Linked DNA regions of Homo sapiens. The protein of the gene in region 1 interacts with the protein of each later gene in a pairwise test. Each region holds a gene or a part of one and is shown on either strand. Other genes may lie near its edges.

Evidence for each region.
Region 2: the proteins of ARHGAP5 (region 1) and FGF13 interact in a two-hybrid assay, tested with the Homo sapiens proteins (one study listed by BioGRID).

Annotation. Positions count from the first base shown.
Region 1 is NC_000014.9:32,150,001-32,158,027, reverse strand, and holds part of ARHGAP5 (rho GTPase-activating protein 5), read right to left. Parts: coding exon 7,995-8,027; intron 5,606-7,994; coding exon 5,500-5,605; intron 3,408-5,499; coding exon 3,080-3,407; 3' UTR 1-3,079. UniProt on the Homo sapiens protein: GTPase-activating protein for Rho family members.
Region 2 is NC_000023.11:138,631,379-138,639,405, forward strand, and holds part of FGF13 (fibroblast growth factor 13), read right to left. Parts: intron 4,278-8,027; coding exon 4,079-4,277; intron 1,609-4,078; coding exon 1,472-1,608; 3' UTR 1-1,471. UniProt on the Homo sapiens protein: Microtubule-binding protein which directly binds tubulin and is involved in both polymerization and stabilization of microtubules.

The DNA.
Region 1 (8,027 bases):
AACAAAGAAACAAAAGCACTTTTGACTTTTTAAAATTATATGTGTATTTATATCCAGTTGACAAATAGCATCACAATTATTACTGTATAAAAAACTAAAAATCACCATGGAAGCTAAGGCCTAAATTCTCATTCCAATTGTTCCCTTTTGTTGATACCTAAGAGATATTAATTAGATTCCAGTACCTCAAAAAAAAAAACAAACCCAAATAAACAAAAAAACCCAGGTCTACATTATTTACATACAGTATGGGAAAAAAAGCTGCTTTTTGGCTAACTTAGATTGCGGTTACCTGCAGTATTTACACTGTAAATGTTAAGGGGAAGAAGCACTACTAACAAATACCATTTAAAAAAAATATATTGTGCCTGGAATTTTATTCTTAAATTAGTTGTATATCCTAATAAGTGTCTGTTGAATAGAATTTGACTTCTAATAAATCTACTGAAAGTGTGAAACAGAGTACCACTATGCTTCTTTATATTGCTAATCTAGATCCTGTTAGGTCCAATATTGTAGTTAACTATAAGCACTGAACCTTAAATGAAACAATGGCAACATGTGTGTAGATGAAATTTTATTCAGTATTGTAAAATATAATGCCTTGATGTTTACTCACAATTATGAGACTATCCTATTCTTTTAATCCTTTAAGAAGTCTCATATGATAGGTCCCTAAACAGTGAAACCTTCCAGTAACTTACCAGAAAAAAGTTTAATTATGTTATTCTGTTCTTAGATGTTTCTAATATTTAAAAGCATATCTAAACCCTTGGCAAAAACAAACACAATCAATTCAGTGTAACAGACTGAGCTTTAAACTGTACTTTAATTTTCAATAACTGTAACCTACTGGTTAATTGAACCAAACGTAGAGTATTTAAATGACTCACTATGAAGTGTGTCAAATCAATGATAGAATGCATAGAAAAGTGGAGATAAGTTTGGGGGAAGGTGCAAGGTGGGTTAATGTGAAAAACGGTAAATGCCAGTTTTAATAACAAAAATGGTACTAAACGCAGATGAACATTAAATTAATACAGTATAAAAGAGAACAGCTTAAATAAACTGGTATTCACATATTACAATAGCAAAGTTATGACAGAATGAACTGAAGACACGAACAGTTTTGAAAATTCTCTTTTCAGCCTACTTCCAAATAGAAATAGTCAGGCTTTTTTCCTGTACATAGTTTGATGCTTTGTCTATACCATATATAGTAGAAAAATAAATTCTTTAGCAACCTAGAAACAGTTTATAAAACTCTTAAAGTTTAATTTTCTTTGCCAGACATGCCAATAGTTAAACTGACAACTATAAATTAAAGCTATATAGACAATAGGTATAAGTAATATAGAACAGGTTAAGAATACTACATTTACCGGATTTTTTTTTAAAAATTACTGTACTTTCTTAATTCCTGTGTGCTTTGCAATAGGAATAATAGGGACTTTGTTTTCTTAGAAAAGATAACATGTAAGAGTATAACACAAATAAGATAATTTATAATATACATGTACTTCAACAGCAGCCTGGTTCATGCCAACATCTTGGTTCTGAAGTTAAAATTGGAAGTACAATACCTAGAACTTAACAGTTGGGAGAGACAATATTTATTTTAGGAAAAAACAGAGCAAATCAAACTCTTAGGAGCCTTGAATCTGAAAATCATCTATTTACTATAATACACATAAGATAATCTTAAATTGTAGTATGAATTAAGATAACATTGACCAAATAATTTTTTTCTTTACTACACAAAATATAACCTAGTGAAATTTACCTGTGCCACCTATTCTGAAAATTTTATCCATAATTTAGTGTTCTGGTTTTATCTTCACTAACAAAATGTTTACCCCCAAAAGCAGCAGTCACTTATAGTAATTCTGGTACCAACATCAAAGGAAAAAATTGGCTTAAAAATGGTGCAAAAGCCATTTTGGATTTTAGTACAACACATCACAGAAAAGAATATGAATACAAATTTGTAATATAAACACTCCAAAGAGTCTGTCAGTACCCAAAGTATTTTTATTGCTATATTAGCAATGGGTTTTTTGGATATTTTTTAAGGGCCACATAAAAATAGATTCAAGGAACAAATTAAATTGAAGTCCTAGATTTAAATGTTTGGTTTAAAGAATTTTCTACAACAAATTTCATGTTTATGTATGAAAAGTTATATAACCTTATATGAAAATGTCATGGAAGTATTTTCTACACTATACTAAATGTGTTCCCCAAGAGGGAAAAAATTAAAATATCTAAAATATATTAGATTAAGATTACAAGACCATCATAGATCTTTTGAACATGCATCTGTTTACAGAATTAACAGTATACAAAATTTTTATTTCATTATGGACCATAAAGAAATGAGTTGGTGACAACTATCCTTTGCACAACATTATCAACTCACTTTAGCCACAAGCATGTCCTTGGTATGTGTGTAAAAGAAATAGGTTCATTTATCCCTCATCAAATCATCCACGGGTTTACTTGGAAGTAAAGATGAAGGTACAGAAATGTGAAATATGTCAAGTGTATTTTTTCTTTCTTTCAAACAACATCCCAAGCATGGCCTCAGTAGCCTGAAATTATAAAATACTTAACTGGGCTTTTAGTTATCTACACCGACTGCCAGAATGTAAATTAAGTTGCCCAAATTAGCACATCAAATAACAAAATCAGCCAGAAAGCAGGCTGAAAAGCATTAAATGTTTCATATAGGTGAGTTTTTAAATCATTTAATTTCTATAGAAAAATTTTATTCACAATATAAGGTGACAGAAATTGCCACAGGAATGATATACTGATTGCAATAAGGTTGCATGCAGCAGCAGCTTTGTACTTTATAGCTATTTTTGTTTATAAAAATTAAACCTCTCCAGTCATGCTTATCACATGGTCTTAGATTTGTAATGTAAGTGAATAAGGAATACCATCTAGTTCAAAGAGAAAATGTAATTTTGAATGTGAATTATCTGTATGAAACATGAAGTATACTACTGAACCCTGAAACATGCATGTCTAGATTTGCTTTTTGTCCAAATCCAGCCTGTTTGCAATCACTTCCTACTCATATAATACCAAGAGGATCCGTTTGTAATTGTGGTTGTATCAGCTGAGGTTGCAATGGTGGCGGCAACTGAAGTGGCACCATTGGTTCCACCAACTGTCCTGGGTTTGAAGGTGGTGGAGGAGCCACAATGTTTGTCGTTTCTACAATTTCTCCATTGTAAAAGAAAAACTGACACTGCTGAATGAATGTTTCAACAACAGATTGATGAATCTTAGTAGTAGACAGAAACTCTCGATTTTCAAAATCAGGTCTCATCAAGGTTGGCCAAAAACAGATGGATAAGTTGTCTGCTGTCATTAGGTTGATTTTATGTTGCTGACTAACCCTGAAATTATGAAAGGAAAAAACATTTAGAAATCAAAACTCATTACAATCACAGAATTCCAGAGCTAGAAATGATCTCAGATTTAATGTTACCTTTTATCCTACTTCAAACCTGGGGTTTAAAAATTTGCATAAAGAAGCATCTTTAATTCGTATGTAAAAAACTTTTCCTGGGCCAGGTGCAGTGGCTCACGCCTGTAATCGCAGCACTTTGGGAGGCTGAGGCAGGCGGATCACCTGAGGTTGGGAGTTCGACACCAGCAGGACCAACATGGAGAAACCCCATCTCTACTAAAAATACAAAATTAGCCAGGCGTAGTGACAAAGCCTGTAATTCCAGCTACTTGGGAGGCTGAGGCAGGAGAATCGCTTGAACCTGGGAGGTGGGGGTTGTGGTGAGCCGAGATCGCGCCATTGCACTCCAGCCTGGGCAACAAGAGTGAAGTGAAATTCCGTCTCAAAAACAACAACAATAACAACAAAAAACCTTTCCTGATGTGACAAATTGTATTGAGTTTCTGGCAACAGAAACAACAAATTCTAATTGTATATGTAACTTCTTTGACTACTGTGAGAGATGAAAAACCAGAGTATGCTCTCTCAACTAGCTTTGGAAAAATTACTACCATAGGTGTTTGACACTAATATCAGGCTAATTTTCCCTTCCTTCCTCTGTTCCTCTCTTTTTTTTTCCTCTCTCTTTCTTTCTCTCTCCTTTCTTCCTTTTTTTTTTTGAGAATCAAGTCTCACTATGTTGCTCAGACTGGTCTCAAACTCCTGGCCTCCAGCTCCCCAAAGTGTTGAGCCACCGCATCTGGCTGAGAATTTTTAACTTTCAGAAAACCTGGTTGCAGCAGGTGCGGTAGATCACGCCTGTAACCCCAGCTCTTTGGGAGGCCGAGGTAGGCGGATCACAAGGTCAAGAGATCAAGACTATCTTGGCCAACATGATGAAACCCTGTCTCTACTAAAAATACTAAATTTAGCTGGGTGTGGTGGTGTACATCTGTAATCCCAGCTACTCGGGAGGCTGAGGCAAGAGAACTGCTTGAACCCAGGAGGCGGAGGTTGCAGTGAGCTGAGATCATGCCACTGAACTCCAGCCTGGCGACAGAGCAAGACTCCATCTCAAAAAAAAAAAAAAAACCTGGCTGCTAGCATTCCATAAAACAATCTTTTTTTTTTTTTTTTTTTTTTTTTTTTTTTTTTTTTTTTGAGACAGAGTCTTGCTCTGTTGGCCAGACTGAAGTGCAATGGCATGATCTCAGCTCATTGCAACCTCCGCCTCCCGGGCTCAAGCAATTCTCCCGCCCCAAGCCTCCTGAGTAGCTAGGATTACAGATGCTCACACCACGCCCAGTTAATTTTTGTATTTTTAGTGGAGATGGGGTTTCACCATGTTTCCATGGTATTTTCTCAGGGAAAGGTTATAAGAAATGTTAATACAATTTTATACCACATTGCTAGTAAAAAGTAAGCTTTAAACATTGGTGAATCCTCTTTTAGGAGGTACCAGCTGAAATGTACTTGGTTTGGGTGTTGATACTATTAGTTTAAAAAAAAAAAAAAACAAAAAAAACCATACAGTTCATTAAAATGCCAGTAGAAAATATTATGAGGAGACTTTTCAAAAAATTAGTACATATACTAAAATAGTTCCATTCAGTCCTCAGAACAACTTTGTGAAGTGTTGTTATTTTCATGTTTATAGTTGAGACAATCAAGACTTAGGAAGAATAAGTCATTTACCCAAGGTCACAGAACTAGTAATTTTTCAAACCAAACCCTGTTCCAACTCCAAATAGGTCAATCTGGTTAGTTATCTGAGTGTCATTTCATATCTAAAATTCTAAGATTTTACAGAGAATGTGGTAAAAAGGAAAATATACTTACCACACTTACTATTTATATAATAATTACATTACAAAACTAATCATATATCTTTTTAGATATAAATTAGAAAAACAAAATTCAACTATATGTTTAGTCTGAGTCCCCTTTTCTATCTGATAATTATCCAATTTATAAAATTTACATGTTTGAAATGTGTAGTGCATTTTATTTGCCAAAAAACCCTAAAAAAATAAAAATACCTGTTTAGATGTGTTATCACGTATCTGAATACATCATAGTTTACAGGATGAAATTTCTTAACAATTTCTTTCAAGGCATGAAGACGTTCTGTTTTATCCGGGATTTCTGTAAAATTAAAACAGTGAAGAATCTGTGTAAAACTTACACATTTAAAAATATTTGATAAAGCTTCCTGCTATATTTACTATAACAGTCAAGAATGTGTTTAAAGCATATTAGGATAGGTAAACAAAATCAAAGAAAATGTTCTAAAGCAACAGTCCCCAGCCTTTTTGGCACCAGGGACCAGTTTTGTGGAAGACAGTTTTTCCACAGATGGGTGGGGGGATGGTTTCAGGATGATTCAAGTGCATTACATTTATCATTAGATTCTCATAAGACGTGCACAACCTAGATCCCCTGCATGCGTGGTTCACAATAGGGTTCCCACTCCTAGGAGAATCTAATGCCGCACCTAATCTGACAGAAGGTGGAGCCCGGTTTCCCTTATCCAACTCCTCACCTTCTGCTGTGCAGCCTGGTTCCTAACAAGCCAGGCTGTGTGGCCTAGGGGTTGGAGAGCCCTGTTCAAAAGAACCTGCTAAATTATGTAAATTAAGAAATCACTTCAACTAACATTATCTATTTCTATTAATGTCATCATTTATTACTATAGCCTTTTTATAAGGAAAGCTAATCACTGAAGACCAAAGTGACCCAGCATTGACAAAATGGGAAATGGTACGTTAGCAATTTACGTAACTAGATACTGATTTATAATTAACTAATTACTTATAAATATGTTAGGCTCTTAACATTTATGCTACAGAGTAACTATTTTAGGCTTTGTGGGCACACTTACTCAACCCTGTGTTGTAGCACAAAAGCAGTAACAGACAACATGTAACAAACGGGAGTGGCTATACTCCAATAAAACTTCTGAAATTTGAATTTCATGTAATTTTAATGTGTCATGAAATTTTCTTTTCTCTTGGTGTAAAAACGACTCTCAGCTTAAAAGTCTGCCAAAAACTGGCGATAGCCTAAATATGGCCCTCGGGCTATAGATTCGCCTATACTACAATTACTTGTAATCCATTTTGCTTATCAAAGATTTTCCTTTACAGGCAGTTTAAGTATTTAACTTACTCTCCAAATCTATGCAATTATGAAACAGAGTAACTAAAATGTGGCCCTGAAATAAATGAGATAGAGGGTGCTTTCCACCTCTTCCTTATTTTGGAGACCAGTGTGCACACCACATCATTATGGTAGCATAACCAATTACTAACAACATTTCATTTGTTACACATTACTTCTAAATCAGTCCTCAAAAATTTCCTAAGTAGGAATGTTCTGAGGTTCCTATTAATGGTCAATAGATAAGAACATCTAAGCTATCAATTAAGCCATTTTCCCACTTTACCTGAGAGTACGTATATATAAGGCAACTATACCTTGTGACAATATACAGAATTAAAAAAAAGAATCACTGAGAACTTAGAACAATACGAAGTAGTCTCATCTAAAATAACCTGAAGACTTGCAACCAAAAGGAAATAGTAGAGAGAAGTATTTAGCAACTGTGCTAATTTTTTGTCACTGAGAAATCATGTGGATGAAACTGATGCCCAAACAGACTTTAGTTCTCATTTTCCAGATAAATGAATATCTGTTTAGTGGAAACATCTGAATGAAAGATGCCAAAGTAGGAATAAATACTAAATAAATATCATGTTCTTTCCCAAAATGACTTACAACACATGGTCTGCTATGGTTTGAATGTTTCCCCCAAAGTTCTTGTGTGGGAAACTTAATCCCCAAGGCAACAGTGTTGAGAGGTGGAATCTTTAAGAGGTGACTATATCATGAGGGTTTTGTCCTCATGAACAGATTAACGCTGTTATCTCTGAAGTGAGTTAGCTATTTTGGGAATGAGTTCCTGATAAAAGAGTAAGTTCAGCCCCCTTCTTGTCTCTTACTCTCTGAGTGTGCTCTCTTGCCCTTCCACCTTCGGTCATGGAATGACTTTGCAAAAAGGCCCTCACCTGATGAGGCCTCCTTGACCCTGAACTTACCAGCCTCTAGAACTGTAAGAAATAAATTACTTTATAAATTATGCAGTCTGTAGTATTCTGTTACAGCAACATAAAACAGGTAAGACAAAGCCAAAGTAAATTTCTTTGACTTACAATTTGAAGAATTTATTTAATTTTCTTACAATGCCCTTAAGTTTGAATTAAAAACACAAACCTCAAACTTCTAGTACAATGATCTTCTAATTTCTAGGAGCATTTAAGTCACCTAGGGGGCTAGCTAAAACAGAATATTCCTGGAGGCCATCTCCAGGGATTCTGATTTTAATTTAGAGGAAAATGCCTTTAAGAAATAGAGTTCTAGTTAAGTTAATTTTTATTAGCTACATATTCTAGTACATGATGATTTTAACACTTAGCAATCAATATCCAAAAACTGCCATTATCATCCCTCTCATAAAAAGGAGGTTTATACTTACTTGCTGCTTCCAATAGTTCTGGATGAAGAGAAT
Region 2 (8,027 bases), on another chromosome or scaffold:
TGTACCAATCTGAAGTGCAAGTACAGTAACTAGTAAAATAAACACACTTTAAAGTGTTCATGTTAATATGACTCTCTAGACTGTAGACTATCTGAGGACAGTGACCTTATCTGCATTATACAATGTTTACTTCCAGTTGCTACTTCAGTTACTGGCACATAATGGACGCTCAATAAATACATGTTGGAAGATTATTCTTTGAATGAATATAAAGAGTTTATTCGGTGCGTATTTGGGTATACAACAACAAATATTAAACAACTTTTTTAAACTTTTTGTGCACAGGACAGAAAACTGCCTGTACATGCTATGTCCACTTTTGGAACACAGATTTTTAACAATTATGAATGCACAAAATCTTACATATCATGCAACTCTATGCCAAGAACCCAACTTTCTTCCATGCAACAGATATGAAGATCTAAATGGAAACCTAGCTAAGTCTTAAACACTTTTCCAGTAGCAAGTATAATATATGTTGTTGAGGGAAAACCAGTCTTAACAATTCCTTGTACACAATATTCATGTGCCAAATACAATGACAGGAAGACTCATACATATACAGATAAGACATTTCTTATTTTAACAACACAAAAGACAACATCACAGTTCCACAGTTCCTGTCTTTACACAAGAAGCCACAACAATAGTTTAACATGATACACAAATGGAATTAAGAGAAATCTACACTTGAGGATAATTTTTTGAAGTTCTCTTTACTGACTGGGGTTGACAATACAACTCAATTTCTACGCACAAAGTACAGCACAATAACTTGACCAGAATACCACAAATCTAAAAAAAAAAAAAAAGAAAGAAAAACAATTGGTCAAACCACAAGAACACTGTTACCTTGAGCCTGAGAAGCCAATTCAGATTCAACCCTGAATTTGGTTGATTTGGATTAAGTGACGCAAAAAGTCAATAGAACCATTGAATTTCAGAAATCATAAAGTTGCACTATGCCAAAGAAAAGAGTACATGTGAATCAAGCGTAGATAGAAAACATCAAGCCAAGAAAACAACACAATTCACATAATTTTGTTTGCCCCGACAAAACATTTAAGCAGTTAATTTTGTTTTGTTTTGTTTTGTTTGTTTTTGAAGAACAATTGTGGTCTTTTACATTTTCTTGGTGGGAGAGCAAATTTTGATCAGCATTAGTGCTGTGAAATACTTTTGGATTATCATCCCCAAAGTATAGGTGAGATCATGAGAAAATTTGGCAGTCCTTCTCTCAGATTTAGTTCACTAAAATGCTTGGCATTCTTATGCACAAGCTCAATCTAAATAATGGGGCTTTAGTATGGATGATAAGAAGGTCTAATGGCAGATAGAATAGTGAACTCTGCCTGTTTGTTTGGTAAATGTCACTGACAAATTTGAACTTTTGGGTGAAGGACTGCTAGAAGAATTCAACAGCACCTGGAGGTAAGGTTCTGTTACAGAGCCCTTCTTTTGCCCTCACTGGCTACGTTGATTCATTGTGGCTCATGGATTTGCCTCCGTTCAGCACGCCAGAGACACTTCTGCTCTTGGTTGGGGTCCCGCTTCCAGATCGGGAGAACTCCGTGAGATCGTGCAGTGATGGCTCCTTGTACATGGCCACTGAAAAGCACACAAAGATGGTGTAAAAGGCCTTCAAATGGGCATACCAATTGTGAAAATTTCTAAGAATAGTTTGTAGGTGTTCTATTCCACACACCTAAATGATAAGTATGTGAGGTAATGCATATGTTAATTAGCTTGATTTAGCTATTCCACAATGTATACATATTTCAAAATACCTTGTTCATAATAAATATATACAATTTTTGTGTCAATTATAAATTAAATTCAGAAAAGGAAAAAGAGAAAAAAAATACATTAAAAAAATGGGCCTACCACACTGGTCCTCAACTTTTCTTTTGGTTACTAGGCTTCTGTGCCTTAAGCCAGACATGAAAAACACTGCTTTCAAGGACTCAGTAGAGAGTGGACAGGTTCAGATTAAGCAAAAATCTAGCCTTGGTGTAGTAGTGTGTAAAGAATTTTAATGCCTAACTTCAACCACATATGGTTATGTAAGAGAGGATTAATAAAAAATGCATTTAATAAACCTCTTAGAAGTTTAAATATGATCTATAGCATACTGTACAAGGCAAATATTAAAATTTAAAATATTTTAAAACACTGATTTCTATCATACTTTAAAATGAAACACTTCAAGAGTCTAAGTATTGGATAATTCTTGGTACAGTAAATGGTAAAATTTATTATTGTGCTATAAATAAACATAATAGCTTATAGTTATGGAACACATAACATTAGATACTACTCTAAGTTCTTTGCATGCATTATCCCATTTAGTCCCTATGAGAATCTTATAAGTACTCTTATCCATATTATACAGATGAACTTGAGGCATACACAGGTAAATAACCTGTTCAAGACCATCCAGTTAGCAAAAAGTGAAGTTGGGCCTTGAATTTAGGTAGTCTGGCTCCAAAAAATGTGCTGTAAAACACAGTGCTGTGCTTATTCGAATTGCACAGTGTCTGCCTCTACTCTAAACCCCTACTCTTACCTCAGGCTAGTAATCTCTTTGAAGTCTTCCTCTGCTTTGCCCGCATTTTCTGTCTCTTCTCTACCATATCTCACTATTTCTTACCTCCCTATCTTCCATAGCCTATTCTTGTCCCTCACCCTTTCTAATTTGCTATTAATCTGCTAATAATGATGGGAAAACTATAAGCAAAATTTGCTGAAATAATATGTTGGGCCCTTAGAGAGGACCCAAGGAGCTTTCTGGTAAGTGTTAAGTGTACACACATTTTTTTTTTCTTTTGTTTTTTGAAACGGAGTCTCACTCTGCCGCCCAGGCTGGAGTCCAGTGGCACGATCTCAGCTCGCTGTAAGCTCCGCCTCCCAGGTTCACGCCATTCTCCGGACCTCGTGATCCGCCCGCCTCGGCCTCCCCAAAGTGCTGGGATTACAGGCGTGAGCCACCGTGCCCGGCTGTGTATACACATTTTTAACACCTATGTTTCTGCCCAGGCAACATTTTAGCATAATTTGGGGATCTTGGCTGTCCTGAGTTAGCATGTAAGTTACTTCCACATAAGTAAAGTGTCACTATATGTACATGCACTATGGAAAAATTAAAATCAGGAGAGCAAATGTTTTTGAGTGTTACAAAATGTAAGTTTTTTAAATAAATGTCTTAATGTGGAACAACTGTTTCATTTTCAAAAGTATTATTAAGGACTGCTTTAAATTACTATTTCTAAATGTTCAACATCACTAATCATCAGGGAAATGCAAATTAAAACCACAATGAGATACCACCTTACTGCTGCAAGAATGGCTATAATTAAAATGTCAAAAAACAACAGATGTTGGCATGGATGTGGTGAAAGGGAACACTTTTACACTGCTGGCGAGAATGTAAATCAGTACAACCACTATGGAAAACAGTATGGAGAATCCTTAAAGAACTAAAAGTAGCATTGGATCCAGCAATCTCACTCCTGGCTAGCTACTGAAAGGAAAATAAGTCATCATATGAAAAACACAACTGCACAGGTATGTTTATAGCAGCGCAATTCACAATGGCCAAAATATGGAACCAACTTAAGTGCCCATCAATCAACGAGTGGATAAAAAAATGTGGTATATATATACACCATGGAATACTACTCAGCCATAAAAAGAAATGATATGATATCTTTTGCAGCAACTTGGATGGAGCTGGACGCCATTATTCGAAGTGAGGTAACTCAGGAATGGAAAGCCAAATATTGTATGTTCTCACTTAAGTGGGAGCTAAGCTATGAAGACATAAAGCATAAGCATGATATAATGGACTTTGGGAACTTGGTTGGGGGGAAGGTTGAGAGTGGGGTGAGGGATAAAACACTACATACTGGGTACAGTGTATACTGCTTGGGTGATGAGTGCACCAAAATTTCAGAAATCACCACTAAATAGCTTGTCTATGTAACCAAAAACCACCTGTACCCCCAAAACTATTGAAATTTAATAAATAAATAAGTATATTTAGTAGCATAATCCATAGTTCCCACAATATCAAATGTACCTTTCAGTGGTTTAGGCAGAAAATGAGCTGCAGGCTTGTTCTTCTTCACATGGTTGCCTTTCATGATCTCTCCTTCTTTGTTCAGACCCAGATACCACCCTCGGCCTGACTGCTGCTGACGGTATATCATTGATGAATATGTCACATAATAATTTTCAAACACTGATTCTTTGAATTTGCACTCAGGTGTGAAAAGTTCCTGCAACAAAAGTAAATAAACAAAAGTTCAGTGTTTATAGCTATGAATTTCCTGTAGAATCATGTGGTATTGCCTTTTAGGAGATTAAGACATACTTTGTAAAAGCTCGTGTGACTGGTGCTCTATTTTAATAGCATAAACTATCATCATTGGAAACCATCAGACTACATATAACATTTCACATGATGCTTTAGAAAAAGTCATAAGTGAAAGTGCTATTGATCAATGATTAGCTCTCTTTGTAATAGGTAATGGGAACATTAGAACAAGCCACATAAGTGAAATATATTGGACAACTACAAGAGCCAAGGATTGAAAAGACAAGCATAAAACTGACACATGGAGCTTTGTTCCCTTCAGGGTTCAATATGAGAAAATAAACATTCGGTCCTTGTACTTAATTTTCATGGATTCTTGAGTTATTATACACTATGGTTGTCAATTGCCTCAGGCTGAAATCTGTGTTACAATGCTTTCTGCCTATATTTCTAAAAGAATGCTACAAAGAAAGCCTACCTTTTACTTTTAGGTAAACCAAATTGATTTTTTTTGGATCATTGGACCTTGACTTGAGACAGAAAGAAAAATTCCCCCCTCACCCCATCCTTGCCTTACAGTAACATTTACATGCAAATCAATACAAAAGCAAGGAATTTACAGCAATTTTACTAGCAGACACGATAGAGCAGCCCAGTGGACTTTGAACTCAGGAATATGGTTTTCTGTCATGCATTTGGCCATTTTTACTTTAGACTGGATTTTTCAAATGAAGGGCTCCTGCCCTCAATAGACCATTTCAAGGAAACAAACAAACAAACAAAAAAACCAACAACAACAAAAAACCTTTTGTGTGTTTGAGTGTACACGTGTCTATGTGTACAATAAACAGCCATTAAAAATGATAATTTCTAAGCTAAATGAAATGAATAGTAGATTTGAATGTATAAGTAATCCATAGAGTAGCAAAGGGCCTACTTGGAGTGGAAGATTATTAGGAAAATGCTAAGTGAGCTACATGTCATAGAGGCACCAATTAAACTATCAGATTTTTGCTAATTTGCTGAGATGTTATCAGGAAAAACACTTGGTACTATCACCAAAAACATGTATACAAACAAATATTGCAAGCTTTCTGGGGCACTAGTCTTTTAAAAACAATGTCTCCATGGTTCTACCTTCCTTTATTTTTCATATTGGATACCATTTTAAGCAATACACACTAGCTGAGCAGCAACATCTGAAGCCCTCTCAGTCACTTCAGCAAAGAGGGATATATTCCTCAGGCAAGGCAGCTTTTCTCTGAAATTTAAGCACTCAAGCAATTTCCTTTCCTTTTTTCTGGGATTCTACAAACAGTGTTTCACACAGTAATCTGCCTAATCTCCCCCCATCTTCCCAATCTGGCTCCCAGAATGCACGAACTGAAGTATCTTTTGGGGTTATTTCAGCCTAGGGGCACACTCGATAGATGTTCAGAGGATTCACACAAATTCAACCTACTCAAGAAGCAATGTACTTCTAAGGCAACTGTCACATGTTAGGAACCAAAATGTTCTATTTATGGGCTGTGAAAACTCCTCTTTGTAGGATTTCTCAACATAGAGAAAGCCAAGAAAGTACCAAGAAATTTGACTAGAAGTCTCCACATTTCCTTTAGTGATGAGGACAAGTACATAGAACGTTGCTGAAATTCTTTGGGAATTAAATCACTGTACGGAAAAAAGTCATCATTGGAGAATGGATTTTCCTTTCATAAAGAATCAAACCATTTTGAAAATATATCTGGTGAAAAATGCATATGATCAAGGCAAATGATACCAAATAGCCACATAAACAATGTATGGCTGACTCCAGAATGGTGAGATGGGATCATTGCATATTCTAAGTCAGGTCCCAAAAATGGGCTGCATTTAATGTCTTGTGTGATAGCAGCATTCATACATTCATTTAATACACATTTTCTAAGGATCCATTATGTAGTTGATCGGTGCTAAATATTCATAGGTAAGTAATATGTGGCTTCAGACAGCTTATCATATATTTGTAGGTATCAAGCATGTACACAAATGTCATAGATACAATGTGTGCTACCATAAGGAAAGAAAGGGAGGCTTACAGGAGGTGCTGTATGAAAACAGAAAAAGCCAGACTTAATTCTGACTGAGGGACTAGGGAGGGATTCACAGAGAGGGTATCATTTTAGCCGAGCTTTTCAATACAGAAAACAGGGAAGAATAATATTTGAAGCACAGGGCCACACTTCCTCTACTTTTCCTGTGTTCCCTGTCTTAGTAACTGGAATCCACCATCCTGGCAGTTGCTCACTTAACACTTCAGAGGGCCTTTCATTTCATTCCTGTGCCCTCTAGTCCGTGATCCATGACCTTCACCTTCCATTCCCAATGCCACTGCTCTACTTTGCGCCTTATTACCTCTTCACTGGACTGCTGTCATAACATCCTAACTGGTTTCTTCTCTTCAGCTGGCAGGTTTGCTTTCCTAAAGCAAAGTTCCCTTCCTTGGGAAATTTTGATGATTTCACCTTGCCTATAGTAAAAACAACAAACAACTTGATGTAACATTTAAAAATTCTCCACAATTCAGTCACTACCATGCCTTCCAGCGTCATCTTCCAGTGTCATTCACCACAGAACCATGTGTGCCTTTGCGCTTTACTGATGCCATTCATTTCCTTTGCTTAGAATGTCATTCCTTTGTTTCTCTACCTACTGGCTTTCCTCTAACCCTCCAAGGCCTAGCTCAAATATGACTGTTTCCAGAATCACATATAATCTCTCCCAATCAGAACTGATTACACCTGTTATCTGTGCTCCCATAAACTCTATCTACATCTCTAGCATGGCCCTGTGACTCATACAACTGTATGATTAGCTCCAGATGGTAGGGAACTTGTCTTATTTTTTCCCCAATCTACCTTCCCCCAACAAAAATGACACGTTAGCACATGGCAGACCGCTTGATTATTGTTTATGTGATTTGAATTTCAGAGATTCAGATTTAAATATTGGAAATTCTAGGACTCAGAATTATCAACTAGTAAAAAGTCTGCAGGGATTTTCCTTAATACCATATCATGAAATCAGCTGTATGTAAAATGAGGCTGTCACTGCATGGACAGATTCTGCAAGTGTAATTTAGTATCTGGCACCTATAACGTGGCACCTATAACATCAGGAGAAAATCTTGGCAATTGTTACAACTATTGAAAAATGGCAAGGAAGGACTCAATGAACTGAATGCTCTGTCACATCCTGGCAATTTCTTAGTCATCACCACTAAATTTGGACTCAAAAACTCAGTAAAGAGGGAGAAAAATGAGGCCAAAAAAAGAATGCTGAAGCAACCAAAGGAGTGTTCTGTTCTCTGTGTATGACACTGTCATTTTATCCAGTGTTGAGTAGGCAGAAGAGGCTTGATTTTTATCAAATGTGGAAAAATGTGAGCATGTCACCCAACACAGGCAGGTCCACCAAAAGGATACAGTTTCACCCCTATGTCTCTGCAGTGATTCATATGAATAATAGAAATTGGATTTGTCCCAACCCACGAAATCCCTGTTCAGAGGAGACTAAGTAGATGTATGCCAAGGAACCAACCTACTTTGACTGATCTGGAAGATGCTCACTAGTGCCCTGGAAGAAGGTACCATAGCGCTCTTGACACATGAGAGGCACTAAATAAAGGCAGCAATCACTGTGTTCTGGATTTAACAGGCACTGGATAAATGTC